Regions from separate parts of the Homo sapiens genome. Here all the other regions are linked to region 5. Evidence: fine-mapped expression QTL. A gene starts in region 5. Each other region holds a variant in brackets. All regions are shown on one strand. Distances are between the middles of the regions. Region 1 overlaps MICAL2 (microtubule associated monooxygenase, calponin and LIM domain containing 2). Region 2 overlaps LINC02989 (long intergenic non-protein coding RNA 2989). Region 3 overlaps MICAL2 (microtubule associated monooxygenase, calponin and LIM domain containing 2). Region 4 has its middle 16 kb from the start of LINC02989. Region 5 holds the start of MICAL2 (microtubule associated monooxygenase, calponin and LIM domain containing 2). Region 6 overlaps MICAL2 (microtubule associated monooxygenase, calponin and LIM domain containing 2). Region 7 overlaps MICAL2 (microtubule associated monooxygenase, calponin and LIM domain containing 2).

The links. PIP is the estimated chance that this variant, and not a neighbour inherited with it, causes the effect. A credible set is the group of variants that fine-mapping cannot tell apart.
Region 1: its variant is the best candidate, but not a certain one, in a credible set for the expression of MICAL2 in whole blood (TOPMed, PIP 0.69).
Region 2: its variant is the best candidate, but not a certain one, in a credible set for the expression of MICAL2 in fibroblasts (GTEx, PIP 0.88).
Region 3: its variant is the best candidate, but not a certain one, in a credible set for the expression of MICAL2 in aorta (GTEx, PIP 0.86).
Region 4: its variant is the best candidate, but not a certain one, in a credible set for the expression of MICAL2 in skeletal muscle (GTEx, PIP 0.88).
Region 6: its variant is the best candidate, but not a certain one, in a credible set for the expression of MICAL2 in fibroblasts (GTEx, PIP 0.86).
Region 7: its variant is the best candidate, but not a certain one, in a credible set for the expression of MICAL2 in whole blood (INTERVAL, PIP 0.62).

The regions. Positions count from the first base shown.
Region 1 is chr11:12,216,007-12,220,006 of GRCh38, forward strand. It overlaps MICAL2 (microtubule associated monooxygenase, calponin and LIM domain containing 2), which reads left to right. Exons shown (of 28, transcript NM_001282663.2): 8 at 213-313. The region is part of intron 2 of LOC124902634 (a long non-coding RNA gene); the gene reads right to left. Among named protein-coding and RNA genes, the nearest start is that of MIR6124, 54 kb to the left of the region's middle. RefSeq lists enhancers at 865-1,365, 1,366-1,866. The variant G/T (reference allele first, on the strand shown) is at 1,561.
Region 2 is chr11:12,088,651-12,092,650 of GRCh38, forward strand. It overlaps LINC02989 (long intergenic non-protein coding RNA 2989), which reads left to right. Exons shown (of 2, transcript NR_186297.1): 2 at 472-791. Among named protein-coding and RNA genes, the nearest start is that of LINC02989, 3.8 kb to the left of the region's middle. RefSeq lists a silencer at 3,572-3,866 and an enhancer at 3,759-4,000. The variant T/C (reference allele first, on the strand shown) is at 1,930.
Region 3 is chr11:12,228,362-12,232,361 of GRCh38, forward strand. The region is part of intron 15 of MICAL2 (microtubule associated monooxygenase, calponin and LIM domain containing 2); the gene reads left to right. Among named protein-coding and RNA genes, the nearest start is that of MIR6124, 67 kb to the left of the region's middle. The variant T/TC (reference allele first, on the strand shown) is at 2,353.
Region 4 is chr11:12,069,141-12,073,140 of GRCh38, forward strand. No RefSeq gene overlaps it. Among named protein-coding and RNA genes, the nearest start is that of LINC02989, 16 kb to the right of the region's middle. The variant C/G (reference allele first, on the strand shown) is at 1,723.
Region 5 is chr11:12,108,375-12,112,374 of GRCh38, forward strand. MICAL2 (microtubule associated monooxygenase, calponin and LIM domain containing 2) reads left to right here and starts at 2,216. Exons shown (of 28, transcript NM_001282663.2): 1 at 2,216-2,352. RefSeq lists a silencer at 1,910-2,579 and an enhancer at 2,122-2,825.
Region 6 is chr11:12,205,670-12,209,669 of GRCh38, forward strand. It overlaps MICAL2 (microtubule associated monooxygenase, calponin and LIM domain containing 2), which reads left to right. Exons shown (of 28, transcript NM_001282663.2): 5 at 2,354-2,470; 6 at 3,828-3,929. Among named protein-coding and RNA genes, the nearest start is that of MIR6124, 44 kb to the left of the region's middle. The variant G/A (reference allele first, on the strand shown) is at 1,900.
Region 7 is chr11:12,136,086-12,140,085 of GRCh38, forward strand. MICAL2 (microtubule associated monooxygenase, calponin and LIM domain containing 2) reads left to right here. Exons shown (of 28, transcript NM_001282663.2): 2 at 2,305-2,375. Among named protein-coding and RNA genes, the nearest start is that of MIR6124, 26 kb to the right of the region's middle. RefSeq lists enhancers at 598-1,098, 2,829-3,372, 3,373-3,914. The variant CG/C (reference allele first, on the strand shown) is at 2,130.

The DNA.
Region 1 (4,000 bases), 110 kb after region 5:
GCCGCTATAGAACTATAGAAGCTAGCTGCTTTGACTTGGGTAGATTCTGGCACTCTGTTTTATCTTTGCCAGCCTTGTGTGCCTTAAAAACTGGTCTAACATGAATATTCTGCAGATAAATAACAAGACCAATAGTGAGGCAAAGTACAGTTCCTGGCACACAGTTGGTGCCGAGGAAGTAACACTGAGCTTGTGAATGCTTCTCTTTTCAGGCATAGATCTTGAGAACATTGTTTACTACAAGGACTGCACCCACTATTTTGTAATGACAGCCAAGAAGCAGAGCCTGCTCGACAAAGGTGTCATCATTAACGTACGTACCTCTTGGCTGCGATTTCCCGACTTCGCGACCTGGGCTGGTGACATCAGCAGGTGTGAAGGCAGATGTCGTCCTGCCAGAAACTGAGCGAGGGGAGGAGGGGGGAAGGTGCCACCAGCTTACACCCTTCTTTTTCTTGGTGTTACATGAGTATTGGATAAAGGAGCCCACGCCAATATGCACAGAGAATTTTCTGCAGAGGGACGTGTGCTGCTGTGAGACCTTTACCAGGTGTTAATGTGGATCAACTGAGTCTTTTCCTTCCCAAGTCTCATCCAGCCTTGCCTCTTCTCTGGGAGGTCACATGTCATTTGGAGGCAGATGGGGGCTCCTTGTCCTAATGAGACATAGGCATCCTTTGACTTGTGAATTTCATGCTGTGGAGCCTTGTCACAGTGTGGGGGAATTTCATTATTCATGCAGTCAAAAAGACTCGATCTGCATCTTGACTCTGCCACATACCTCCTCCAGACTGTGGGCAAACTGTGTATCCTTCCTGAACCTCAGTCTTCTTATCTACAAAATAGGAATGATAGTTTCTGCCTGAAAGGGTTCTTGGAAGGAGCAAACAGAAGATATATATAGAGCACCTGGCACAGTGCCCGGCAGAGGGTGGGTTTGTAGATTCCCTCTGTAACTTCTCAGCCTTGTTTGCACACTGGCTTTTTTGTCCTGCTGGCTTCCTGGCCTCTGCTTCGTGGCCTTGCGACTTCATGCTTAAGCACGGAGCAGGGTTGGAAGGAAGAAACATGGAGTAGTGGCCCCTGACTGGAAGCTTCTTCGGACAGGTGTACAACCCTTCCAGAGCCCCTGTAGTTGCTGCCACTGTCACTGCTGCTGCTGCAACCTCAAGATAAGGATCACACTGCCCAAGTTCAGCCTGCTGTCTGGGTGTCAGCCTGGAGCCCAGGCAGCACGGTGGCCATTCATTGCTGCTTGTCAGAGAAGAATGCAGCTATCTTCTTTCCTGCGTGTGCTGGCAGCCGTCTGGGTGGCATTAGTAACCCAGCCACCCCGTGGGCCTTCTCCACTTCAGCTCAGGTCTTTGCTGAGAGCCTGAGTTGTAGACGGAGGCTGTGAATGCGGGCTTGGTGAAGTGGGCTGAGCACGCCAGCAGATGGGTGGGCGATGGGCTTCAGCAGTGTCCCACTGCTGACTGTCAGTCTGGGAGTGGTGGCGTCCCCTTCTTCCCTCTGCCTCACAGAAGTTGCCTCCTGAAGTTGCCGCCTTAGTCTGAAACT[G/T]GGGGGTGCAGGGGTGTAGGGGTAGCGGGCAGCTTTGCAGAGGAGAGGTTAGGCAGGCAGGCAAAGCTTGATGGGTTTTGTGTTTTGCAGAGCACCGTGGCCTCCTGGGATGCTAAGGTCACCCTCAGGTCATCCCAGGTGTTTGCTCATGGCAACTCGCTTCCCTGGCGGTTGTCAAAGCCCCTCCAGGCCCATGCTTGTCTTCACCAAGGCCTTTCTTTCTCCTTCAGAGGCCCCTGGGAGCAGCTCCTGAGCTGGTGCTGAGGAGCCTCAAGGTACAAGATGGGAAAGAAATTGGAGGCCACAGGCTGGACACCTGATTGGAACAAGAGCTATAGCCTGAGCGTCCAGGTGTCCAGCCAAGTTCCCAACCCATCTTCCCTGAGCCGCTTAAATTTACATTGTTCTCTTGCTCCCTGGAGGAATGGCAAGTTTTCTGTTTTCCTCTCCCTACATGGATCCATATCTTCCTATAGCCACACAGAAGGTGCCAAGTAAATGTTTGTTGAATGAATGACTGACCTCTGGACAAGAGGTTTTCCTGCTTCCCCATTGATTCCAGCTGATCTCTGGGCTTCTTTCCATGGCTACCGAAGGAAGAGTAAAGTTTCTCTTCAAGCAGCCGTGCCTCTGGGCTCTCAGCTGTGCCCATCTTTCTCTTCCCCACAGGGAGGATGTCCCATCCCAGAGCCTCCCTGGGCCCCTGCCTCTGCTGGCCCATACGTGTGTGGGCTGGGATTCTGTCCTCCTGTCCTTGTCCTCATCTGCTCCCTATGGTTTTGCTCCTTCTTCCATCCCCCCACTCATCTGGGACCCTCCAGCCACTAAGAGACTCCACAGCAGCCCTAGGCCAGCTCTAGCCTAGTGTCTTCCCTTTGCTAGGTCCCCACTCTCCTGCATGAGGCGTCCACGCCAGGCACTGTCTTCACTGTGTAATGTCACCCACTCCATCTTAGGGATGCTTGGGTCATATTTTGAAGGGGGGGTGTTTGAGACCTCTCCCTTCTCTCTTCCCCCATCTCACCTCCACGCCTTCGGAGAGAGAAGTGATCATGTGACCGCGGAAACAGGGATCAGAAAGGAAATCAAATAACAGGAATTCCATCCTGGACACTGGGGCCTGACAAAGAGCTCTTGGACCAGTGCTGGATGCAATTTGGGCGGTTTGGTTTGAATGGGGGAAATATGAGTTTCCAGAACAGGGTATTTGAAATCATGGCTACTCAGAAAATTGAGGCAGTGGTCACTCTGGCTGTAAATGCGGCACTCTGTGATTGTCAAGACCTTTGTAATTGAGGGTGCCTTGGCTGGGTCCAGGATATACTTCATCATAAGCCATATCTGGAGCCAGCATGAATTACAGGGGACAGGAATTCCCATTCATCGGTCACTTCCCACATGGGGCTAGGGATTTCGTGTGTACACTCATTCCATCTTCTCATGTGGCTCTGTGAAGTAGGTTTTGATATTCCCTTTTTACAGATGAGAGAGTGGAGACTCTGAAAAGTTAAATAACTGGCCCAGATTTAGTTAGTAAACAGCAGAGGTGGACTTTGACCCGTTGCTCTCACTGGCCCCAAAGCCTGTGTTCATGTTACACACTGGTCCCCTCCCACTCCAGGTGTCTGTACTTTTTGTGTCACCTTTGAGAAAGGTGGTCTTTTAGTTTCTTTAGCCACACGGTGAGCAGCTTGGACTCTGGGGATACACTAAACTTGCCAGCTCTCTTCAATCCTCACATCCTGTGTTTCATTGCTAGTGTCCCTCCAGGATGGATATTCCAGTCCTCGCAGCTCAGGGCTCTGCACTCCCCATGAAAGAAGCATAACAATTAGCACCAAAAGCAAGCTACTGGGGAGGCTGAGGCAGGAGAATTGCTTGAACCTGGGAGGCGGAGGTTGCAGTGAGCCAAAATCACACCATTGCTCTCTAACCTGGGAGACAAGAGCGAAACTCCATCTCAAAAAAAAAAAAAAAAAAAAAAAAAAAGCTACGCTGTGAGAGCCCTCGGCCCATCAAGTAAAGGGGTCACTGATTTTGGAAAGTGTGAGAGGTTTCCCATTTTCTTTTTCTGGTCTTGTTTGACCACTAAACATGGCATATTTGGATCATACTCGCTTAGCTGAATTTATTATAAAATCACACTTTCTGATGGCTCCTTTGTCTCTTAATTGTACTGAAAGTTCTCATGAGAACCAGACCTATGAAATGTGCTCGTTGTTTGCTCCAAGACCATTATCAAGTGCACTGTTCATTACAACTCTCAACGCGCCCTGTTGAAATTCCTACGTGAGACAGATCTTTTAGAATTTAATGCCAGGGAAAAATTGCCTCCCCTGAGGAATTTCTACGCTTCCTTCTTTCTGATAAGGAGAGCTCTGGGGCATATCACATTTCCCTTTTGCCTTGGATGCCAGGAAGCTCAATGCCAAATTTGATG
Region 2 (4,000 bases), 20 kb before region 5:
GGGGCTTTCAGATGATTAGTCAGATGTCGGCTAGGGCTGCAGGTATCCGAAAGGTTCAGCTTGAGTGGGTGCCTGGGATGGCTCACCCAGGTGGCTGGCACTGGATGCCAGCTCTCATGCTGGACTCAACTGGGCTGTTGACTGCACATGACCTCTGCATGGGCAAGGGCTTTTCACACCGGGGTGCTGGGTTCCACGAGGCAGGAAGAGGATGCTGCTAGGCCAGGTAAGAGTTGTGGCAGCACTGGCACGGCATCACTTTCTTTCTATTCTATTGGTCAAAACAATCACAGCATCGACCCTTGGAAACATAGATGTCACATCTTGATAGGGAAATGGCAAGGTCACATTTCAAAAGAGAAGATAGGATGGGAGATATTGTTGCGGCCATCTTTGGGAAATACAATCTGCCACAGTTGCATAGCATTATTGAAGCAATGAGTAACACAGACAGACATTTTTATTTTCCAGGTCTCCATCTTCCTTGCAGCACTGCTTTCTGTCCAGCCTCCCTGCATACCCACTTCATCACACAGGGAATGGCAAACACTGAGCTGCTGGGGGAAAGGCCTGCAGGGCCCTTCTGAGCTTTGTCGCCAGCTCTGGGGTCAGCAGGAAAGAATGCAGTGACTGACCAGTGATCACTGCCTCAAGGACCACGAGAAGAGGGGAAAGCCCTGGTATGAATGAGCTTGTACCCTTCACCTCGCTGCGTCTTGGTTTCCTCTTTTACATTTTTCTAAGGATTCTTCAGTATGGATATGAGGAAATATAATTGTCTAATTTCATTAGAGAGTGGATCCAGGCAATGCAAGCCGAGTGCTTTGCCAGTACTAGGTGCGGTGGAGGAAAAAATTAGATTATTCACAGGTTCAAATTGAGATTCTCACCTTATTACTCACACAGAGAGACTAAAGGTATCAATTTCTGCTCTCCCCAGCCAGGCCTACCCACAGGAGCTAGAGATATTCAACTGCCTTATTTAGCTTCACCCAGGCCCAGGAGCTGCTGAAATTAGACCTGGCCTGGTAGTGGGAACCCCATCTGGGCAGTGGGAGAGAAAGGGTTAAGATCTGTGATCATCGCATGTTCTTACTCATAAGTGGAAGCCAAACAATGGGAACACATGGACACAGGGAGGGGAACAACACACACTGGGGCCTGTGGCAGGGCAGGGGGAAGGAGAGCATCAGGTCAAATAGCTAATGCATGCTGGGCTTAATACCTAGGTGATGGGTTGATAGGTGTAGCAAACCACCACGGCACATGTTTACCTATGTAGCAAACCTGCACATTCTGCACATGTATCCTGGAACTTAAAGTAAAACTAAAAAATGTTTAAAATAATTAAAAAGAAAAAGATCTGCGTTTATGACCCAAGGTTCCTGAGAAGGCTCCCTGCCTTGGGCCTCCACCTCTGTTCTCAGCTCCAGCCTTTCCCCAGCCCAATCTGGGTAACTGAGCTTCTGCCCCAGGTTTTCCAGTGAGCAAGAAGTCCCCTTAACCCCATTCAGCTGGGATTCTATGGTCTTGCCAACTTCCCCTATCATTTTTCCTTTTAGACCACGCCCTATTCCTGAATCCAAAACCACTTCCTGCTTCAAAGAGGAAGTTCCTTCAGAAGCCAGATGCTGTTACCCACCTGAAAACAAGTATCTTTGGCAAAAGCCAGAGACTCCTCCTGTCAGAGCCCTGCCCACCTGCCTGAGAGCCCCTGCCAGGTCAGCAGCCAGTATGTTAACCCCCCTGAGGGCCCTAGGCCCCCGCTACTCCTGTCCCGGCAGGTCTCAGAGCTGAGCCCAGAGGGTCACGACAGGAAGAAGGCAGATGCCTTCCATACTGACTAGGTTTTTGGCTTGCTTTGCACCAACATCCTGTCTGCCCTGTTTCCTACTGAGGGCAAACTGGACTGGTTTTTAATTAAACCCA[T/C]TCCCCCAGAGAGCTTGGGGGAGAGATAGCCTCATAGAATTCCTTCAGTAGTTATCAGAAGGAGACCCCGTGGAGGCAGAGGTTGCAGTGAGCAGAGATCGTGCCACTGCACTCCGGCCTAGGCAACAGAGTAAGACTCCGTCTAAAAAAAAAAAGAAAAAAGAAGGAGCCAGGGTGGGGGGTGGGAACAGGAGAGAGGGAGGGGGGAAAGTGAAGTCACAAGTCCAGAGTGGTTCCTTCCTGGCTGAGCTAATGCCCTAGCAATGCACCTTATGTAATGGGCAACTCACCTGAGCGTCTGAGCCCATAGGAGTGCCAGCCCCTCCCTGTGGTGCCTCCCCTGCAGGGCCCACAGCCACACCCTCAGTGCACACACTCTCCTTCCTATCCATCCACTGATACCTGGGGATGACCTTTGAACGATGTCCAGCAAATCAAGCAAATTAAAGGCAATCACATCCACTGTAATACATCTGCTTGGTAGAACATTTGAACAGAGAAAACATTCCCCAGAGCTCCACCCCTAGAGATAGTTTTTCTTTTATTTTTTTCACCCAGGTTGGAGTGCAGTGGTGCAATCTTGGCTCACTACAACCTCTGCCTCCCAGGCTCAAGCAGTTCTCCCACTTCAGCCTCTCGAGTAGCTGTGACAACAGGTGCATACCACCACACCCGGCTAATTTTTTGTATTTTTGGCAGAGACGAAGTTTTGCCATATTGCCCAGGCTGGTCTCAAATTCCTGAGCTCAGGTCATCCACCTGCCTTAGCCTCCCAAAATGCTGGGATTACAGGTGTGAGCCACAACACCCGGACTTCTAGAGATAGTTTCTATATTCTAGAGATGTTTTTATTTTTATTTATGTTTAACCAAATTAAACTCTTCAGTTCTTCTTTCTGGTGCTTCCTTTGGTCTTTAGCTGAGTCCCTCTCCAAAACTAGAGGCCATAGGGTTGCTGTGGCTTTTCCATCCCCATCATAAAGGGTAGTGCTCCCTCAGTGATTGGTTTCAGGATTCTCCCCAATACAAATCAGGCCTCCAAGAACCATGTCCCCTTCAGAGAGGATTCCTAAGCTTCCTCCTCTTCCTCCTCTTCTTACTGCAAGGGAAATACAAGATCAGTCTGGAATGGGCTTCCAGATTCATACAACCTCCCCCAGGACACAGATTCCGGGAGAGAGAAGAGGAAGGCAGGTTTGGAGCCTCCACCACCACCAGTTTCCCTCACGCCCTCCTCTCTCCCTTCCCCTCTTTCTCAACTTCCTCCTTTCCCTCTCTTCCTTCTATGATCTGTCCCTGCCCCTCTGTCTCCTCTTCCTTTCCTTCCTTCCTCCCTTTTCTCCTCCCTTCCTTAGCAGGCAGCAATGAGCAGGTGGCACTGAACTTAGATTCCACCATCACAGGTGGGTAGATCTTGGCTCACAAGCCTGTCATTGACTAGCTAAGTAGCCCTGATTGGAGGAGTCATTTTATTTCCCTGAGCCTTTGTTTCTCATCTGCAACATGGAGATTTTACTCACCACCGTGGTGCAGACAAAGTAGGACAAAGTATCCTTTAACCCAGGGCTTGACACGTGACACTCATCAAACATTGCTGAGCTCTAATCTGCATCAGGATATGGTAAGTGTCTACTGGGTGCTGGGACAAAAGGTACAGATGGGAGCAAGGCAGAGATCCCTAAACAGACCTCTGTTGTGATCTTTGTTGTAATACATGGTAATTATTTGTTTCCAAAAAGAGGTGGAAGGAGACATAGATAGCTTCTACCGCCAGGCATTCAGGCACCAGCTGTGAAGGCCTTCTGCACATTGAAAAACTCAGAGTAGCCTGGTGGCTGGAATGAAAAGTCAACACCAGTTCCCCCAGCAAAATATTTCTCCATTCAGCCTTTTCGGCTCATTGGTTTGCCTGAAATCAGTTGTTTCTCCCTGGGGAAGCAATCTTTAAAATGGTGAGGAGAGTGTGCATCTGATGTGCCTGCACTTGTGCCTGTGAAACAGGGTAGGCTCAGAGCTCCGTGCAGGCCCATGAAGTCCCCTCAGAGACACCAGTGTTGGGTTGTCATAGGGTC
Region 3 (4,000 bases), 120 kb after region 5:
CTAGGTGCCTTGGCCAGGTCACCTGCTACTCCGTTGTACTTCATTACTTTGCCCCTACCCCATGCTTCCTTCACACTAATTAATCAACTCATTGAAAGGCATTTGTTGTGTATCCAGTTATAGGACATACAGAAGTAATGTGAGCCTTGACCTTGGAGTCCAGTTAGGAAGATAGATGCTGGGAAGATAGGGAGAAAACTGAGAACCAAGAGTCCGAACCTTGGGGAACAAGGGAGTTTGAGGCGCTGGCAGAGGCAGAGCAGCCAGGAAAGAAGATGGGAAGGGGAACAGGCAGTTGGAAAGTCAGAGAGGGAGTCGGGAAGCCCACGGAGGAGAGCGCTTCTACGGGATGGGCCCTGGAGACCATGCCAGGCGACAGGGAAGCCAGCCAGGGTCGGGGCTGAGGACAGGCTATGGGATTTGGATGTGTTGGGGCGGATGGCAAATGTCAGAGTTCTAGGACTGGAGTGGGGAGTTCCTGGGGTGGTCAGTGGGAGCAGAGGAGAGAAGATGGGTGGAGGAGAATAGGACCAGAGTGAAGCCACTGGTGGGAGCAGGGGTGGCTTGGGGTAGGGGCAGTTGTAAGTACCTGCCCAGAGCTTGCCTGCCCTCTCCAGGATGGCAGGGTGCCCTCCACCAACAGGACAGTGGGCTGGAAGCCTCTGCAAGTTTCTGAGTCTCTCTAGGTGGCCAAGAGTCTATTTAAGCTTGGCCAAGGCAGCCATACCTAGCAGGGTGGGATGGGGCCACCCAGCCTCCTTTCCCTGGGCTGTGTGAGCAGTGGTCACTTTTTCCACTGAGGCCTGAACTCCCTGCTCCCTGGGATGCTGCAGCGGCTGTTTTGCCAACCCCAGGAGCAGGATACTTCATGCTTCTGTGGCTCCCTATCTCTAGGAAGGAATGGGCTAGCAAGGCCTTAGCTGGGCAAGGAAGATGGCAACAGAGCAGTTAAAATGATGAGCTGCACCCAGCCTCTCTCCCACTCTGAGCCGGCCCAACCTAGAGGCTCTGTGTGAGGGCTGCATTGTCCGCCATGTTCCCACTGAGTAAATGGGGCTGTCTTCTGGGTACCAGCGGTCAGCTTGTTCTACCTCCAGCCCAAGGACCCCTGTCTTGGGCTGTTTGGCCCCAGGCAAGCCAGTCAGTGTTTCTGGAAGCTCTCCGAGACAGACATTTACTGCCTTTCTCCATTCACCGCGTTTCTGCCACTTGGCCCTCAGAGGGAACTGGAGAGGGATGTTTCCACCTTTCACTCACCACACCTCTATTTACAGAGTGACAGAATTGAAACAGCCTGGCCAGCACTGGCTTGGGAGCTGGGGATGGTTAAAAGTCAGGAATCAGCAAGGTTAGCCAGGCCTCCCAAGGGCTGAGGGCCTCACTCCACTTCCCTCTGGCTCTGCTAGAAAATGCTTGTGGTAGAGGGCTCTGCCCAGCCCAATTCTGGCCCCTTTTGAATCTTGTTCAGTCTTCTTCAGGGTGTGTCCCTTGGCTGCCCATTTTGAGAGGAGTCAAGGCCCACAGATCTGTCCTCTCCCACAGCCTCATTTAATCCTTGCACTCTACCCCATCTTTGGATAGGTAGAGATATTTGGCCATTGAGTTAAGTGCCTGGCATGGGCATTGTTTGTTCTCTCAGAGCGATGGAGCACTTCCTGTGGGTGGGTTAGGTTGTTTCGTAAGGCTACTGGGTCACCACACTGTGCCTTGGCCATCACTGAAATACCTCTGCATTCTGTCTACCACTCAATGCCAGCACAGTGATCAGGGCCACGTAGAAAGTACCTTCTTCCCATCCTACCAGATACCTTGTTGTATCTGAATGCTTTTTTGATTTGGGGAACCGAATGGCAATGCTCTTTGACCTCAACATTTCCCATTAGCAAAGAACAGTGAGTCCACCTCGGTCTGGTCCTGCACAGCCACAGGGGATGTCTGCACGTAAGACTCTGAAATCCATACACAATTACACATCTGTACATAAAGGCTCCCTCACATTTACACCAAGATATCAGTACAACAAAACACGCAACCCTCAATGACCTTGCTCATCAGCCCTTCTGGAGTGGAGATACAGGGCAGGCATGCTTGCACGAGTCTATACAATAGCCCTCCCCACAAACACAGACAATATCTGTACATACAGGTGCATCCGTATTTGACCTTCCTCCCTGCCCCTCCCTAACTTCCTCTCTGTCTTCCAGAGGAATATATTGATATGGGAATTGAGCTGTGAGTGCACATTTATTTACAATGTGGCATCTTCATCTGAAGAGGATCTGCTGGTTCTCTGCTGAGTCAGGCTTAAGAACCTCCCTCCCTGATTTTCACTGACGATGTTAAATTCTTCTT[T/TC]CCCCCCCCATCTTATTTTCCTGATAACATGCAATCCAAGCAAGATGTATCAACTTCAAGCAAAATGAAAGGCTTTTTCTCCATCAAGGATCTCATTTACTTTTAAAGAGAGTAACTTTTCCATTCCCACCATGAGTGGTAACCCAGTGGGTTGATTAGTTCTGAAAACTGGGCAGCCCATGCCTGGAAAGAGGAGAGCTTGGGGAGTATATTTTCCTCTTAAAAGGCCCTTGGTCTGCTTCTGCAGATCTGTCTGTGGTCCTGGTGAGGATCTAAAAGCCTCATGGCATGGGACAGTTCCTGGGGGCTCCAGGGCTCTTGTCATCATGCATGTAGGTGACACCTGGACATATAACCAGGGCGTCTATCATGCCTGTGTGCATGGGCACACACACAGACATACACCCTCAGACTCACAATACCTACCAGTACTCTCCTAGACCTGCCACACATGGTGACACCTGTACTTATGGCCACTACGGTCATTACTGTACACATATGCAGAACACCAATTTTTGTCCCATTCTGAGCCCACTCCTTGGGGGATAAAACAGAAGTTGTTACTTGTCCCTGGAGAGCTCATCCCAGAAGCCAGATGGGTAGCCCCAGGTTTGATCCTGCTCAACCAGGTCCTCCTCCTCCTCCAGCACTGGTCCCTGACAGAGTGGCATTCACAAAATGTGACTGACATTTTTGTCAGTGTGTGGTCTGAGTGGTCCAGGTCCCCCTCCCCAACCCTCCTCTTCCTGAGCCACCTGCACACTTTCCGAAGAGCCGGGTGGCATTACGTGCGAAGGTGCCTCTTCCTTCCATCTACTCATTCAACAACTGTTTCTTGAGTGCCTATTTTATGTGGAGTTCTCCTCAGTACTGGGGATGGAGCAGTGAACGAAACAAGCGAGGACCCTGCGTAGGCAGCTTACCTTCTAGTGGGACTTACGAACTTCCTCTCACCTCACTTCCCCAACTTCTCTCACAGAACCACACGCCCAGCAGCCAAAGCTCCCCACTAGGTTTCCAGGACTTCTCATGGCAGAGGTTTGAAGAAGGCTTAGGGGAGTCAAGAGTGCCGCTTTCCAAGGCTGGGCCAGCACAGGGCCCTGGAGTATCCCCTCCAGGTGCGCGCAGGTCATGGCTGAAGCTACTCTCTCTCCTTTCCTCAGCGCAATCTCAGTCCAGGATTCAGAGCTGATTTACAGATTGGGAATGCAGTTAGAAGTCAAGCAGACAAACACAGATTTACGTCTGCTGGGGGTCTGGCAAATGTTCTAGCCTCTCAGAAATCTCCTTTGCTTGTCTGAAAAATGAGGGTAACAACATGTACACCATTGTATTGCTGCAAAGATGAGGTGATCAAATGCGTGTGGCAGGTCTGAGCACGATGTCTGGCAGGTGGAAGGTGCTTAGTAAATGATAGTTCTTTTCCTTTAGAAATGATGATTAAATGAAGATGCTTGTTTTCTCAAAAGATGAGTAAAATGATCTGGCTTGAACACTTGGTTCTGTACTGCAACCACAATCAATACAGCCCTTTGCAGCATACAAAACACTTTCACATACATCTCATTTGCTCCTCATGTCACCTTTGGAGGAAGGCTGGGAACATATTTTCATGCCAGTTTTTAGATGAGGAAACTTGGACTTGGGG
Region 4 (4,000 bases), 39 kb before region 5:
GCACAGTGCTCCTTTTGGCTCCAGGTGCAGAACCCAAGTGTACAACAGGAAGATCCCTGCTCCGCCTCCTGGGAGGGGTGTTCCTCCCAGGAGGAAACCATGTGGAGGGGTTTGATAAACTAGCAGGCGGCCAGCAGGGAAGGGTAGGTGTCGCATCTGGTATCCATCAGCCACTGCTCTGTCCCGGGTCCCAGGTAGCCTCCAATCTCTGAAGAGGGCCCTGAGCCCTGAACTGGCAGGTGTTTGTTTATCAGAGATTTCTGGATGATCTTGCAGGTGACAGGGAGGAGCAATGATTACGTACGTCCCCTGCTTGACAATCGTTCCATTCATTCATCTGCCCATTCCCTTGCCCAGCCGACACGTGCTCTGGGGCCCATGTAGCCAGGCCCTGCGCCGCGTTCCTCTCTCCTCTTTCCCTCTTCTTGCTGCTCCACCTCCCTTCACAAAGGAATTTATGTAGACTTTCAAATAAAACATTCAGCCATAAAAAACTAAATGCCCAAGAACACTCAATTATGCAAAAATGCTGCTTAATTTTCATGAAAAAATTTTAAATAAGAAAGTACCCAAATGAGAGTTTTGTAGAAACATCCACATCAATTTCTGGCTGAATAAAATACCCCGAGTCATTTCTTATTGAAAGTCTACGCACTTCAGTATCATTTGGAAAAATAATCACGGCTTACATATTTCATAGTGGAGAGTTGAGAGGGCAGGGATTCGGGTGACAACTTTATTAAAGAAAAGGACAAAGTGGGTTTCGTTATCCATGGAATCCTGCTTGGGCCGCTGGGATTCAGATAAGTGTCAGTGTCACTTAGAAAGGTGACTTAGGATTATATACTGTCACAAAACAAGTAACAAAATTTAAAAGGCTGGTTGTTTGGGGGCCTTATGAAGACACGTATCTGTTGTCTTAATGATGAGAGAAGCCCCATTCTATGGATGTGGCTGGGCAATTATGTGGGGTGCCTGCTCTGATGGCCACTTCTACCACCATCAAACCCCTGGCATCTAGAACTCTGAGCATCACCATCCACTACTGCCCATCCGGTTCACAAATGGCAGGGCCCACAACACAGAGGTAAAGTCAACATTTTATTTGGAGATGTTTACTGCTGCTACTAATTGAAACCCACCATCAGAGCATCAGACCTATAATGGACATTCTTGGGGACCATAGCCCACCCACTTATCAGCCCTCACCAGTTTTTGGATCCCAGTTTAGGTGCAAATCTCTTTGTGCCTCAGTCTCCTCACTTCTAACATGGGTAATTGCACAAGGATTAGCTCTGGGAATCTCATAGCAGCTGCTGTTGTGTAAACAATAAGAGGTTCAGAGTGTTCTGAGGAGTCTCCTGATGTTCCAGAAGGTCTGTGTCATTGAGTCTACGAAATATGAGGACCAAAGGGCCTCCGAAGATGGGAACACATTGTCCCCTGCCACGCTGGTGTGCACGCTGTGTACCCTGGCTCTGCGGCTCCCTCAGACATCTCACTCACCCCCAGCCAAGGTTGGTTGTTCTAAACCCCCCACCTTCAGAACATTTATAGCTTTAATTGTGACATGAGGGCCACAGTGCCTCCCCACTCTGGCCTATTTCTGTCAGATCCAAGTTAAGAGGGGGTGACCTGACACTCGTGGCGTGTGCAGCCTGAAGGGAGCAGCTGGAGCCTCTGGCAGCTGTCTGAGCACATGGGCGTTGGCTCCGGGCAGTG[C/G]GGGCTCGAATCCCAGCTCCGCCATGAATGGCCATGTGCTCTTGGGGCTGACTTCTCTAATCTTGCTGAGGCTCAATTCTCCATCTCTAAATCAGGGGTTAAAAGCACCTACCACACACACAGTGTTGCTGTTCAAAGTGAAATATGTGCAATGGGCATAGTGTGCTGCTTGGCACAAAATAGGTGCTTGGTTAATGGGAGTGGCCTTCCTCCCCACCAGCTTCCTTCGTGGTGCAGCAGACACTCGGCAGGTGTGAGCTGCCCAGGCCAGTCTGGGAGAAGTGGTTTCTCCTGCAGTCCTGGGCTCCACAGTGGGGCCAGTTCTCAGACTTGCCTTGCTTGGCCATTGGCAGGACTTCCAGAACCTTCTACTGTTTCTGGCAGTGGATGGAACAGGGGCTCCTCAGGATGGAACAGGGGCTCCTCAGAACTCGCCTTCCACCCAGTCCCTGTACCAATGCTGATCCCTGCCTTGAAGTGACTGCTCTGGGGTCCCAGGCTCTCCCCAGCCTCTCTTTCCACGTCTGTATGTACCAGCGCTGGGGGGGGCCCAGACTCTGATGAACAACTGTAGGAATCTCAGCTCTTAACTCTAGCCAGACACATGATCATCTAGTTGTAAGGCCCTTTGGTCATTTGCTTATAAGGACCATTTTGGAGAATATATGACATTTCCAAGAACACAGGGAATGTTTCTGCCCACCCCTCCCCAAGCACCCCCGACCCTACCTCTTTCTCTCCCTCTCTCTTGCATCTTGGCCCACATAATCCCTAACTCCAGGTGCTTGACCACTGGGCTCATATCTTGTTGTTCTTGCTTGCCTTGTTTGGTTTCATTTTTCCTGCAGGTTTTTGGGTAAATCATCTTTGATCCTTTTGAAAGTAAACAATGAGTAAATAAATCTGAGTGGAAGCTCTCTCAAACATTAACTCCTGTTGCGCAGTTAACTAGTTTCTGTGTTGACCTCAGAATTGAGCTTTTCTAACAATCTGTTTATTGAAGAGTTTCTGGAGCTTACAAGTTAAAAAAATGCTTGTTACCATGTGCGGTTACTAATGTATGTTCATCAGAACTCCTTCAATACTGTGTAAGCAGTCAATACAAAACACAGAGATAAATCAGGTGCAGAGGGCGGACTACAGCTGAGTAGCAGAATCCCTGATTTCATTTTGTTGTTGGTCAAGGAAACTTCTTGTTCACATAGAGTTTATGTCATAGACCAACTTATTGTGAAAGTAAGCAAATGCTATATTTACTTACAAAATTTAGTACCATATAACTTTTATGAAGTATGTTTATGCAAATTCTTTTTTTTTTTTTTTTTTAGAAACAGTCTTGCTCTGTTGCCAGGCTGGAGTACAGTGGCACGATCTTGGCTCACTGCAATCTCCACCTCCCAGGTTCAAGCGATTCTCCTGCCTCAGACTCCTGAATAGCTGGGACTACAGGCATGTGCCACCACATCCGGCTAATTTTTTGTATTTTTTTAGTAGAGATGTGGTTTCACCATGTTGGCCAGGATGGTCTCAATCTCCTGACCTCATGATCCACCCGCCTTGGCCTCCCAAAGTGCTGGGATTGCAGGCATGAGCCACTGTGCCCGGCCTGCAAATTCTTTTAAAGTACACTTTTATAGTTGTATAATGCCAGTGTAGACTAACCTCTGTAACAACCAACCTTCAAATGTCAATGTCTTAATATCTTACTTTCGTATCAAAATACAAAGTGAGTCAGCAGGGAGACTGTTCCAGTGTCATTCAGGGACCCTGACTTCTTCCATCCTGTGGTTCTACCTTACCCTGGGTACTCTTCACTCAACTTATGGATGGGCAAAGGGAAGCGTTCATCTGAGGTGGTCGTGTGAGTCTGTGTGAGCCTGCAAGCACTGCCCATCTCTTACACCCACACCCCATTGGCCAGAACTCTGTTCTCTGATAAACAGTGGCATCGTTGTTGTGCTTGACCACAAGAAAAGGAATTGTGTGTCCAGGAAAGAGAGAAGATGCATGTAGCTGAGGAGTGGCAGTTTCGGCTGTAAATATATAACCTCACCCAAGGGGGTGCTTCACCTAAAAACTTGCAGTAGGCAGAATGATGGTGTCCCCAGTGACGTCCACGTCCTCATCCCAGAATCTGTGACTATGTCACCTTACATGCACAAGGACCTTGCAGATGGGATTAAGCTGAGAATCCTGAGATGGGGATGTTTTCCTGGATAATCTGGGCAGGCCCAGTATCATCACAAAGGTCCTTAGAAGTGGAAGAGGGAGGCAGGAG
Region 5 (4,000 bases):
AAAAAAAAAAAGAGTAATAAAGAATACAGCTCCCAAAGCACTGTGGTCTTCTTCTTCTTCTTCCTCTTCTTCCTTTTTTTTTTTTTTTTGAGATGGAGTCTCGCTGTACGAGCAATTCTCCTGCCTCAGCCCCCTGAGTAGCTGGGATTATAGGCATGTGCCATGATGCCCAGATGATTTTTTGTGTTTTTTAGTAGAAACGGGGTTTCACCATATTGGCCAGGCTGGTCTTGAACTCCTGACCTCAGGTGATCTGCCCACCTCAGCCTCCCAAGTGCTGGGATTACAGGCCTGAGCCACCATGTCTGGACAGCATTGTGTACTTCTGATTATTCATCTGTTGCATTATAAGTTACATGAGTGCAGGAACCACATTTGGTTCGGAGTAGGGTTTGTTAAATGAATGAATGACTCTGTCTCCATCTCTATCCACCACATGGGTGTCTCAGGTCCAGGCCAATAGCAAGAGGCTTTATGTCCAGTGTAGTTAAGGTGGGGACAGATGTAACACTGCTTCCTGAAGCTCCTCACTGCCTTGGGTTTCCTGTATCACTCTTCTAAATAAGGTAGGGCCAGGCCAGTGGAGTCTCCTCTCCCTTACAGTGCCCTGGCCTGAGCTTGACAGACTGTTTGGATGGACTGGGAGTGGGTCAGGCCTAGAGCAGCTCTTTCAGGGTTAGACTTGACCTGTCAAGTACCCTAGAGGCATGGGCAGTGCTGTAGAGGCCCCAGCACATAGTGTTTAGGCATGTAGATTCTGGAACCAGATCTGGCTCAAATCCGGACTCTGATACTTACTAACCATGTGATGTTGACCAGTTGCTTTACCTCACTGGTCTCAGTTTCCACATCTGTGAAATGGGATGATGATACAATACATACCTGTCAAGCCAGGCTTAGATGAGATCACGTGTGAAGGGCACTCCCCAGGCTGGCATCACAGGCAGATTTCCATCAGAGTGGAGTGCTGGCCCTCTGAGAGTACAAGCTGACTGGGCCTTGCAAACTGGGTAGGAACAGCTTTTGCTGGAAAGTTCATCTACAGGAAGTTGATTGAATTCTGAAGAGAGAGCTAAGAGAGCTGCCAGGTAGGACAATACCTGGTAAACACCAAAGGGCTGAGAGTAGGATCACATGGCAAGAAGTAGAGTAGAGAAAAAATAATAATAATCTGCAGGTTTGGGGAGGCAAACTGTTCTGTTTGCACTTGTCTGGCAAGGGAACATGGTGTCTCCTGGAGGTGGTCTTGTGCTGGGGAAATTCCAGCAGCCTGGAGCCACAATACTGTTTCTCACTGCTCAAGCCTGCCTGTTTTCCTCTGCCTAGGTAGCTCAGTTCCAAGAACACTTATTGATGCTTACACCGGGCCAAGCCCTGTGATGGGCCCTGGGTTCCAGAGGTGAGTCAGACATGGTTCCTGCCCATGGAGATCCCCATTTCATGATAACTGCTACAAGAGCCGTTTAAACACAAGGTGTTTTACAGTAGTTATAGTCTACAGAGTGCTTCTGATTGCTCACTAGGCCCCACTCCATTCACACTGTGTTGTCTGTGAATGTTGCTCTCTGGAGCTGTGGGGGGTAAGGGTAACCCGGGAAGGTGGGCAGAGCAGAGATTAAGATAGGGATATGACAGCCAAAGGTAGAGGGTGTTTAGGTGATCTGACCAAGGTAACACAGGTAGTCTGCACCACCGCCCCCTTCCCACTAGCTTTAGCCAAGCAAGGCCAGGTGAGGGGAAGATCCTATTAGCTAGCAAGGAGGTTTGCGGAAGCTCAGGGTGGTCAAGGAGCCGAGCAAAGAGGGAGGTCCACAGGACGTACACAGTCGGTACTAGAAGTGCCATGCTGCTCCCCCATGTCCAAAAGGGGATGCCGTGTCTTGCTTTCCAGCCGCCTAGACCAAGAAGCGTGAGGCCCAGGCCCTCGCCGCTCCCTTGATACCCGCTTACCAACACCGGGGGTTTCATCTCGCAGCGCCACCACGCCCCACTCCCAGCAGCCCTCCCCTGGTCTCCGCCCTGTGCGGGTCAGGGTGGGAGCGCCCGGCCACTCCCTGCGTTCTGGGCCGGGCTACAGCCCACGTGCGCCGGCGGCAGCGGCGGTGACAGCCGGCCCCACGGGGGCGGGGCGGGCTCCGTGCTGTCCTGTCATTGGCCGCGCCGCTGTCGGGGGCGTTCCCCAGCCCGGTCCACCGCGCGGCGCAGAACCGCAGGCGCTCGGCTGGCTAAGCCTGCGCCGGGCCGCCTCGCTCGCTCCCAGCTCTGTCAGTGGCCCGCGGGGCCCGATCGCTGCGCCCGCGGCCAGGGCCGAGGCAGGCCTGACCCGGGGCCGGGCAGCCCGCGCGACTTTCGGTAAGGCGGGGGCGGCGCTGGCCTCAGGGTGGGGAGGGCGGGCGGGCGCGGGTGGGGACCGTGCCAGCCTCGGCTGGACTCTGCGCCGTGTCCAACGCCCGGGAGGGTCAGGTGCGGCCGCAGCATCCCCCGCCTCAAACCCACCCGGCGGGGCGCACAGTGAGCAGGTGGCGCTGCGACGAAGCCCGGGGCGGCCCTGGCCGGCCTCTGAACCAATTAGAACGCAATAAAAGCCTCCCACCGGCACGCCGAACTACCTCTTACTCCGCTCCGCAACACCCAAACCCTGCAGTTCCAAGCCTAGAAAATCGCAAGCGCCAAAACGGGGTGGGAGTGACGCGCCTGCAGTGCTGCCTGTCACCTGGCAGAAGACCATCCCCAAACTTCCCAGGATTGGGGCTCCGAGCCTTGCACGCCCCGTTCCAGCTCTTCACTGGGCGCCCTTTTCCCCCTCCCCTGTCCCCTCCCTCTTTAGTAACAGGAAGTTAAGTTGGGCCAAATGTCAGTGGCCTGGCTGGCCGCGGGCTGGAGCCCAGTCGGGATGGGGTCGTGGCAGTGGTCCGAGGGGCCGCGGCACTGTCCGCTCTGCATCGCGTCTCCCGCATCCCCAGTAGCCCGCTCTCGCTCCAGGCCCAGGAGCACCCCCGCAGGGTGTCCGCGGCACCCACCCTGTAGGTGCCTGGCTGGCCCCGGGGAGAGGTGGGATCTTGCCCACAGCGTCTAAGCCGCTGCCGGGCCAGACGGGGCAGGTGGGGTAAATTGTATTCACCGCCAGCCTCACTGGCAGAGCTGGGAACGGCCTTTACTGGATGGGGATGAGGGGATGTGGAAACCAGAGTAGTGTGCCTCCTTCCACATTGTTTATTCTGAGGCCTGGGTTCTTAAAGCGGAAAGAGCTTTTATTTGGAAGCCTGTAGGGCCCCGCCAGGCCTACAGCAGTGTGCCGGCTCTCTTGCTGTGATTGTCGCCTGTTAACTACAGTCTACAATGATTTTGGTGAAGGATGAAGTCACCAGCCAGGCCCCTTGTGGGCTGGTCCCACGGGAGAAAAGCCAGAGGCGAATTGGCCCTCCAGTGTTTGTGCCAGGTTCCCTGACACCTGCACTTACTCTGTCCTGCTCCCCCTCCCCAGTGGCAGTCGACCCAACAAGTGGGCCTCCGGTCTCCAGGGTAGTCCTGTGCAATGCCCTGGAGACTCTAATACCGTAAGAACTCACTTTCTTCATGCAGAGAGAAGACGGACTTATTAAGTGCCTACTGGGCAACAGGTCCTGTCTTGTGGCACTTTTGCAGCCAATTTCATGGTTATTCCAAAAACGCTGAGAGTTTTGCCCTCCCCATTTTAGAGATGGGGAAAGAGGCTCAGGTATGGTAGGTGCCCAAGGTCACACAACAAGTGTCTGAGCCAGGTCCTGGCCCTGTCAGTGTGAGTCCAGTGCTCTTGTTTCATGGCTGTGGGAAGTGGTGTGCTGTGTGCAGGACCATGGCCCCACAGCGTGCTGACTAGAGCCTTCCAGCCTCTGAAAAGATGCTCTCCACCAGGATTTCAGGGGATGCTTCTTTGGCAAAACAGTTGAAGTGACCCAGGTTAGCCAAGTTGTTCAACCTGCAAACCCCTTATCCTCCCCCTAGTCAAGAGTAGTGGATA
Region 6 (4,000 bases), 97 kb after region 5:
TCAGTTTTATCTCCTGTAAAGTGTGATTAATTTCTGTCTCCTAGAATTGCTGAGAAGATTAAATGAGGTCAAGTTTGTAATGTGCTTTGCACTATGCCTAGCACATAGTAAGTGCCCAGGAAAACACATTGCATCCCATGCTGTACAGTGAGCAAGAAGCAGCCATCGTCCCCAGACTTCAGAATCCAGAGCTGCTTTCTCTGTAGGGGTAGGTGGGAGGAGGGCCCTGAGAGCCATGTTCTTATGAGGACAAGAATTGATGGGAAAAAGGAATGAGGCTTGGGCGGGAACAACTGGAGAGAATTATCAGTCACATAGGGTATAATTTATTCAGACACAGGAGAATTTACCAGCTGTGCCCCCAGAGTTTATTCACACTTTGAGATGAGAAAATTCCAGGAGTCCAGTGGAAATTTGGATTTACTCAGAAAGCTGCAGTGTCAGCTTTCAAGATGTGCTCTCCCGCCTATGGAAGAATGTATGTCGGTTACCAATTTAGAACCACTGTATTGAGCACCACTTTCTCATCAAGTTCTCTTGGGGGGCAGAACTGGGTACCAGGATGCCTTGTGGGGCCCTGGGCTGGTTGGGCTGGCTTCCTGGCCAGGAGCCCTTCTCTGCCCTCATTGATGGGGCTTTCATTGAACCCCTAGTCCTTGGAAATCCTGCAGCGTGCCGTAATGCCGGTGGGACTCTAGAAATAACATTGAGACAGGCAGAATGATCATTGTCAAGGGTAGCTCCAGTACTTGTGAGAAAGGAGGCAAGGAGAATTTATTGAGCACCTACTGTGTGCTGGAACCGTACTGAGTAGGAACCTCAGGACTATAAGGAAAGGCCAGGTCTCCCCTGGCAGGGTGGTTCATGGCAGGAGGTGGATTGGGCTCTTTAAGCTGATTGGCTTTGGATCACCCCAGCCACATCTCTAGCCTCAGCTGCACCATCATACTCAGCACTGCTCAGCAGTTCTCCATGTCTGTGTTAACTTCCTCCTCCAGTTCCCACTGTGGCCATTCCAAACCTCCAGCACGGTGACCTCATTCCTAGCAGATGGCCTCCCTCCTGTGTTCCTGTTCTAGGCCCGCTTTTCTCCCCTGCTGCCCCAGCACCCATTCCTTCCTCGTGTCTCATGCCAGATCACAGCTTATGCCTCCTTTCCAATTCCAATCCCTCTGGCTTCCTTCCTTCCTTTCTACCTGCCCCATCACTGAGTCTTCCTGCTCCTCCCCTCATGCCAGCCCTCCAGCCCTGTTGCTGCCCTGCCACTTTTCCTTGCCATAAGGTATTTATTCTAGAAAGAAGGGCGTAGACTTGGTCCATGCTTTCCATTCAAACCTTCTAACGTCGCAGTCTGCTGTCTTCCCCACCTGTGTGCTAAAGAGATTTTCAGCAGTGTCTCCAAAAGCTCCCAAACCCCCAAGTTTATTGGGCTCTTGTCACCTTCACAGCCCTTCCTCTCTCTGTGGGATTTGATATTCTTGGTCCCTCCTCTCTTGGCTTCCAGGACCCCCACTAAGGCCCTGTTCTACCACCATCACCCTCCCCCAACCACCATGTCTTGCCCCATTCTATTTACCTCTGTTCCCTCCATTAGAGGGTGTGTTCTGTATCTCCTGTGCCTAGCATGGCACCTGACATAGTATAGATGCTCAATAAATACTAAGTAAGTCAAACCCACCAAATACAGAAGGGCCCACAGAAAGTTTAAAACTTCTCACTCTACAGAAAAGTATTTGGAGGCATACGCATTTGTGCTGAATGGCAGGAGACAAAACAGAAATGAGATTCCACTCACTAGGGGAGTTTTGAAGTGTGGGTAAGAGATGGGGAACCATGACCCAGCTTTGTGGGGAAAATTTCCTACCCACTCCTCACCACTGGATGTCTAAGAGCTGAGGC[G/A]TAGGCCCCATGTAATGAGTCACTGATCACGGTCTTCACTGAGGCCCTTTACTCTTCATTTCATCAAACCCAGAGCCCAGCTGGGGAAGGAGGCTGGAAAGACAGAGCTTCTCTTGTTACAGCATCATCTAGCAGCTAGAACAGGGTCTAGAAATCAGACAGATGTGGGTCCATGTTCTAGCTTTGCTCTGTGTCGCCTTGAGCAAGTCATTTAACTTTGTTAAGCCTCAATTTCTCATCTACAGAATGAGAATAATAACGATTCCAAAGGGCCACTGTAAGAGTTAGATGAGAAAACACAGAGCTCTTGGTGCATAATCCCGCTCAGTAATGATCATTGTTGGTATACTGCTGTGCTCAAAGGTCACTGAGCGGCAGTGATTATGTAGCATTCTGCATATAGGTGGTGTTCAGGTATTGCTGTGACAGTTCCTCTCTCCTTCCTGCCTGACAGGTATTCGCCAACTACAGCTCATCCTATTCAAGGTGGCCCTGATGCTGGGAGTTGAAATCCATGTGAATGTGGAGTTCGTGAAGGTTCTAGAGCCTCCTGAAGATCAAGAAAATCAAAGTACAGTATAATTTTCTTTTTCTGCCTAGAAAGCAGATACTACAAAATAGAAATTCCACTTGCTGCTTCCAAAGGGTGTTTCTGTAGGAGTTATTCTTACTGGGAGCTGGTTGGCATAATGCCACTGAAGGGTATTTTACTGTTTTTTTTTTACCATTGCTATGACTTTAGGTTTGCTGTTTGGCTCCAAGGGGATTTATGATTAAGCCATTAAACCTGTAATTTGGTTACCCTGTCCCAAGGGGTTGCTACTTTGGCAAAGGAAATCTAATCAATAAATAGGACAGAAGACATAGATTTGGTTGTTTGGTAAGGTTCATTCACGTGTTCTTCAAGCTGTGTGTGTGTTTAACACATAGATGTGGTTGTACTTGTACCCATGGCACATTTTAAAATCCAGTAAAGTGAAGCTTCTAGAGCAACTGTGAAATAAGGTTCAAGATGTTATTTGGTATATAATACTCTTAACCATGTTGAGGTATCATTTATAAACTATGATATTTGCCCGTATAGGCATATCATAATGTTTCTCTTTTTTCCTTTTAGCATGTTTGTTTAAATTCTTATCCCTTACACACACCATGGTCAGAGAGTTTATTCAGGATGCCTCTGCATCTTACTTATTATTAAAAGTATCTACCGCCTGGGAAGGGCTTTGAGTTTGGGACCAGCTTAGTGTCAGAGACCTTGTGGTTTCCTGCTTAGGGTACATTTCTGATTTCTCCTGTCCTCTGCCCAGATTATTTGAGAATTTAGGGGAGGCTTTAGTTAGCTTTTGGAGCAGGACAGCATTCACTATTTGGCATTCAGAGACTGTGTACTCTTAACCTTTTCCAGACCTCTAGTGGACATTAAATCTTAATTAGCCAGGCTTCACCTGATTTTTTTTTTTAAATAAAAGACAGTGTAGTGTACAACAGAACATTTTGAGCATACAATAGAAATTAAAAGTGGTTTCCTTACACCCTACATATCCTTTTGGGTCTGTTTAGCAATGAGAGGCACTGAAGAATGTGGGAGAATGTGAAGAGAAGATGGTGGACTTTGTTGAGAATGATAAGATGCAAATGAGAGTAGTTTATGGAGCATTGAGGATAGACTCCTAGCGGAGGCCAACAAAACCAGGCATGGAGTTGGTGTTGCTGGTTTACTTCATCCTGGATTGAACTGACACTCAGGTCAGAGGACACCAGATTAGAGAGTGAATCTGGACTGCTCTAGCCTTTCCCCTGGAGGCTCTCTCTGTGATACACAGACCTGGCTGCACTGTCCATTTCTCATAGCCACCACACGGGGGGTATAATCATTCTCTTCCCACCTCTCTCTGCCAACTCATCTCATTTCTCTGTCCTGGTAGAAATTGGCTGGCGGGCAGAATTTCTCCCTACAGACCATTCTCTGTCGGAGTTTGAGTTTGACGTCATCATTGGTGCCGATGGCCGCAGGAACACCCTGGAAGGTGAAGACTCTTCTTCTTGGTGTGGGAATGGGGGGATGGGAATGGGAGAGGGTACATTGGGGAAGAGTTGG
Region 7 (4,000 bases), 28 kb after region 5:
ACTTGGGCCTGTCATGTCCCACTCAATCTCACAGGAAACCTTCCCTGTATCACCCAAATCAGGCCCATGAGGGACCAGAGACCTCGTGCTTCTTTGCTTGGCACTGGCCTGATGGCAAGTCCAAGGAGAGACAGCATTTCTTCATTCTGGTTGATTACAAAGGAAAATATAGTGTCAGGGAGTGAGCATGGGCGTGGACTCAGGCCAGCTCCATCGGGAGTCCCAGAGCTGCTGTGGTCTCTGCTAATCGAGACTTTGGGTGAAGCACTTCGCTGTGCCATGCCTCAGTTTCCCCCTCTGTAATGATACCGTACTACCTGTCTTACAGGGTTGCTGGGAGGATTAGCTGAGGTAGCAGTGTTAACTACCCAAGGCAATACCTGTACACAGGTTAATCCCTCCCTCTTATAACAACTAAGTAGTTTTGTCGGTGTCTCTAAAAGTCAGGGTACCTGGAGGGGGGCAGCTGAATGGGGTCCTAGGTGAGGAAATCACCAATTGTATCAAGCTCCTCATTTTATGGATGAGGGAACAGAGGCCCTGACCCTCAAAGGCCAGAAGGTATTGGGCTCTAGGACCTTCTAATTTGTTGGTGTTACAGGGAGCTCAAGTGTATTTGGCTTGTTGGTCAGACAAAGGGTACGAGTTGGTCCTTTGAGTGGCTGGACACAGTGTGCCCAGGCCTCTGTGAGCATCTGACCAGTGGTCAGCCCTTGTAGCCTGGTCCAGTCATACCTGCCTCCAACCCACCATGAAGACAGCCTAAGCTGAACCTTAAAGAGCCCCGTGTCCCTGCTGCTGGTCTCCGTAATGCCCTAGGGTGGGTAGGGACTTCTGTTCCTGAGATCTAGAGAGCATGGCGGGGTCCCTGGCTTCTGAAACTCTGGTTGGACCAATGATGGAATTCTGTACCAGGATGTCCAGCTCCCCACCCACAGATCCCAGAAGCTTCCCTTGAGAAGCAGGGGGCAGACAAGTCAAGGCCTCTAGCCGCTTTGACTTCTGGCTGGAAGCAGCAGCACCGAGCCTGCAGCACAGGCTGATAGAATGTGGCCCAGGCAGGCCAGCCTGTTTGTCAGCTGGCACAAGCCCCGAGGGGTGTGGGCTTGGTAATGATGATGACGGGCGGGCAGGGCTGCCGCTTCTGCCCAGGTGGCCGCCCTTGGAGCTCGCCAGGCTCGCCCGGTGTGTGGGCCCACCAGGACTAAATCAGAGTTGATGTCCAGTACACCTTTCCCTCAGCTTGGTGGGAAAGACCATGAGCACAGGGGCAGCCAGTCCTGGGCTCCAATCCTGCCTTGCTGTAGGGGCTTGGCAAGTGCCATCTGTTCTGTAAGCCTCTGTTTGCTGTCTGTGAGGAGCCACTGAGATCAAGCAGGTCTAGTCTCCACCCATGACAGTACACAGCACTTCATAGGCTGTCTCCCATTAACGGGCTGAGAATTCTGAACAGTGAGTCCCATCTCCCAGCACTCTAACAATGTGTGCTCTTTGTGTGCTAGAGAGAGAGAGTGTGTGTGTGTGTGAGTGTGTGTGTGGGGGGCACCACTCTGTTGAACAAAGTGTGCGTATACCTCCCTGGAGTATGAATATTGCCTCTTATAGATGTCAAATTTCACACCTGTGTTAGTTTTTGTCCCTTTGAGGTTACCTCTTAAATATTTTGATTTATTTTTTAATGTGGAAGTAAATCATTAGAAATATTTTGTAACTCTGGGCTTCGTTTTCCAAACAGGTGTAGAGGCATTTTCTGCAGAAGCAATAGGATGTCATGAAATAATGTGGGTCGTCACTGGAAGCCAAGAGAAAAATTAGTTTAGGAAACTCAGCCATGATCAGCTGGTGCACTTTCATAACTCCCTAGTTTACTCAGTGTTAGAAAATGGGACCCGTTTCACACTGGGGACTTGTTATCCAGTTTTACACCTGCTTGATTTACTTTCATTGTGTCTCACACTTAAAAATTCTGACACTTTCTGTTTTTACTAAAGCAGCGAATAAAGCATTGTTTTCCGGATCCCTCCTACTCCTCAGCAAAGTCTTTGTGTAGAGATCTGATAAGCCCTTAGGGTGCCCTGACTGCAGCCAACAATAGAATTTGTTTAGCCATCTTGCTATTCCTTTCTTCA[CG/C]TGCAAAACTTGTTGGAGGCCAGGGAGAGATTCTCTGTCCATTTCCTCTTGCTGGGTGAAGTGTCCCACAAGGCAGAGTGCACAAGCATGCGTGACCTCTTGGAGGAGACTAGAAAGGAGGCATAAGCTACGATGATGTCACTGACATTAATTGTTGGGCTCTTGTTTTTAAAGGAACATGGCAACCCGTGTGTGTCTCATCCCAGAAAGAGAAGACTTTAACCACTGTGATGCCTGAGAATCCAGTGAGTAAGTCACAGTGGTGGATCTTGTTTACCGTGGAGTAGCTCCTGGGGGCTGGTCCTAGGCTTAGGAAAGTGTGGGATGTTCCCACCATCCTGGGGCAGCTTGCTGTGCCCAGGGCGCGCTGTTCCCTCTGAGTCAGCACCACCTCCTCTGCACTCCCCTAGCGCTGTGTTCTTGCCTCAGATACACCACTGAGTTAGGGTTTGTTCACCTGCTTGTCCCACCTACCGGCTGTGGGAGCCTCAAGGGCAAGGAACCAGACTCCCGCCTTCCTGTCTGAGCCAGGCAGCAATTCCCGGCAGGCACAGTACAAGGCACATCACAGGTGACCAACAGCTGTTTGTGGACTCAAGGAGTCTCATCCCTGAGGTTTGATCAGGGCTTTTATGGTCCACAAAGCTTCATCACAAACAGTGTCCTATGGGAACCTTTGTGCCCTGGGTGGGGTGGTCACATTATCCTTGTTTATTTTATAGACATGGAGGCTGGGGTCTGAGGAGTCAGATAGCCTGCCACAGGTGGTGGTAGGCTAATAAGTGCCCAGGACTCACGTTTTCTGTGTCCCAGGCTAGCCTGGTTTCTGTAACCTTATAATTAGAAAGGTTGTTTAGAGTAAACCCCTCATTGCCAAACAGGGAGACTGAGGCCTGGCCTGAAGATTCTTTCTCAAGGTGACAGGGCTCACTGGTGTCCAATGGAGAATGGAAACGCAGGCCCTGGACTTCCTGTCTGGCGTTTTGGCACCCCTCCTCCCTCCTCCTCTGCCCTGCTCCTGTATTCAGCAATCAGAGAACATTTTGGGACCATATATCTGTGTTTACAGGAGGGTGAAGAACTTACAGAAAGCCATGAGTCAGAGGGAACATAGGGATGAATAAAACCCTCCCTTCTCTCCGGGAGCTTTCCTGGACATGTGAGCCTTGGCAGGGCGTTGAAGAGGCTCAGTTTAGTTGTGGGAGGAGGGAGGATGAAGGTGAGGGTGAGGGGAGAGCATCAGGGCCCAATCCAAGATGCTGGGGCATGGGCGGAGGCTCCGGCGGAGGGGCAGCCGGCGTGCATGTCAGGGCATTTGGCAGCTGGCCTGGTGGGCGCTGAGGGATCACGTGGGGTGAGGAGTCCACGGGAGTCCTGAATGGCAGGATGACAAGGGGTTGACTGGACCTCAGGGAAAGCTGCTCCAGGAATTCTCATTCTTAGTATCTGGGGAAAGACCCAGGCAAAGAGCTGATTGGCCAGTCTGCCACAGCCTGAGAAACTGTCCCCTCTCTGGAGAAACAGAATACAGAGTTTGTCCACAGAGGAGGGTCAGGCAATGAACAGTGAATTCCAATGTTGTCTGAAATGTGTAGGGAGGGGAGTGTGAGCAATTCTGGCTGGCTCAATCCTATTGCCCTCAAATGAATTTTTGTTTTGTTCTGTTTCTGTTGAACACACGTGCTGTTCTTCTCTCTTCCCTTTGGAATCTTGGGTCCCTCCTGGCTCATCCATTCAATCCAGGCTTGACCCAGGGCCAGGTGGGTCCTGGCTACTCTTCTGTGTTTATTCTACCTTTTCTTGCAACTTCCTGGACTTGAGGACTGGGACTGACTGCCAGTTTCATCTCCATTGGCAGGGTGAAACATAA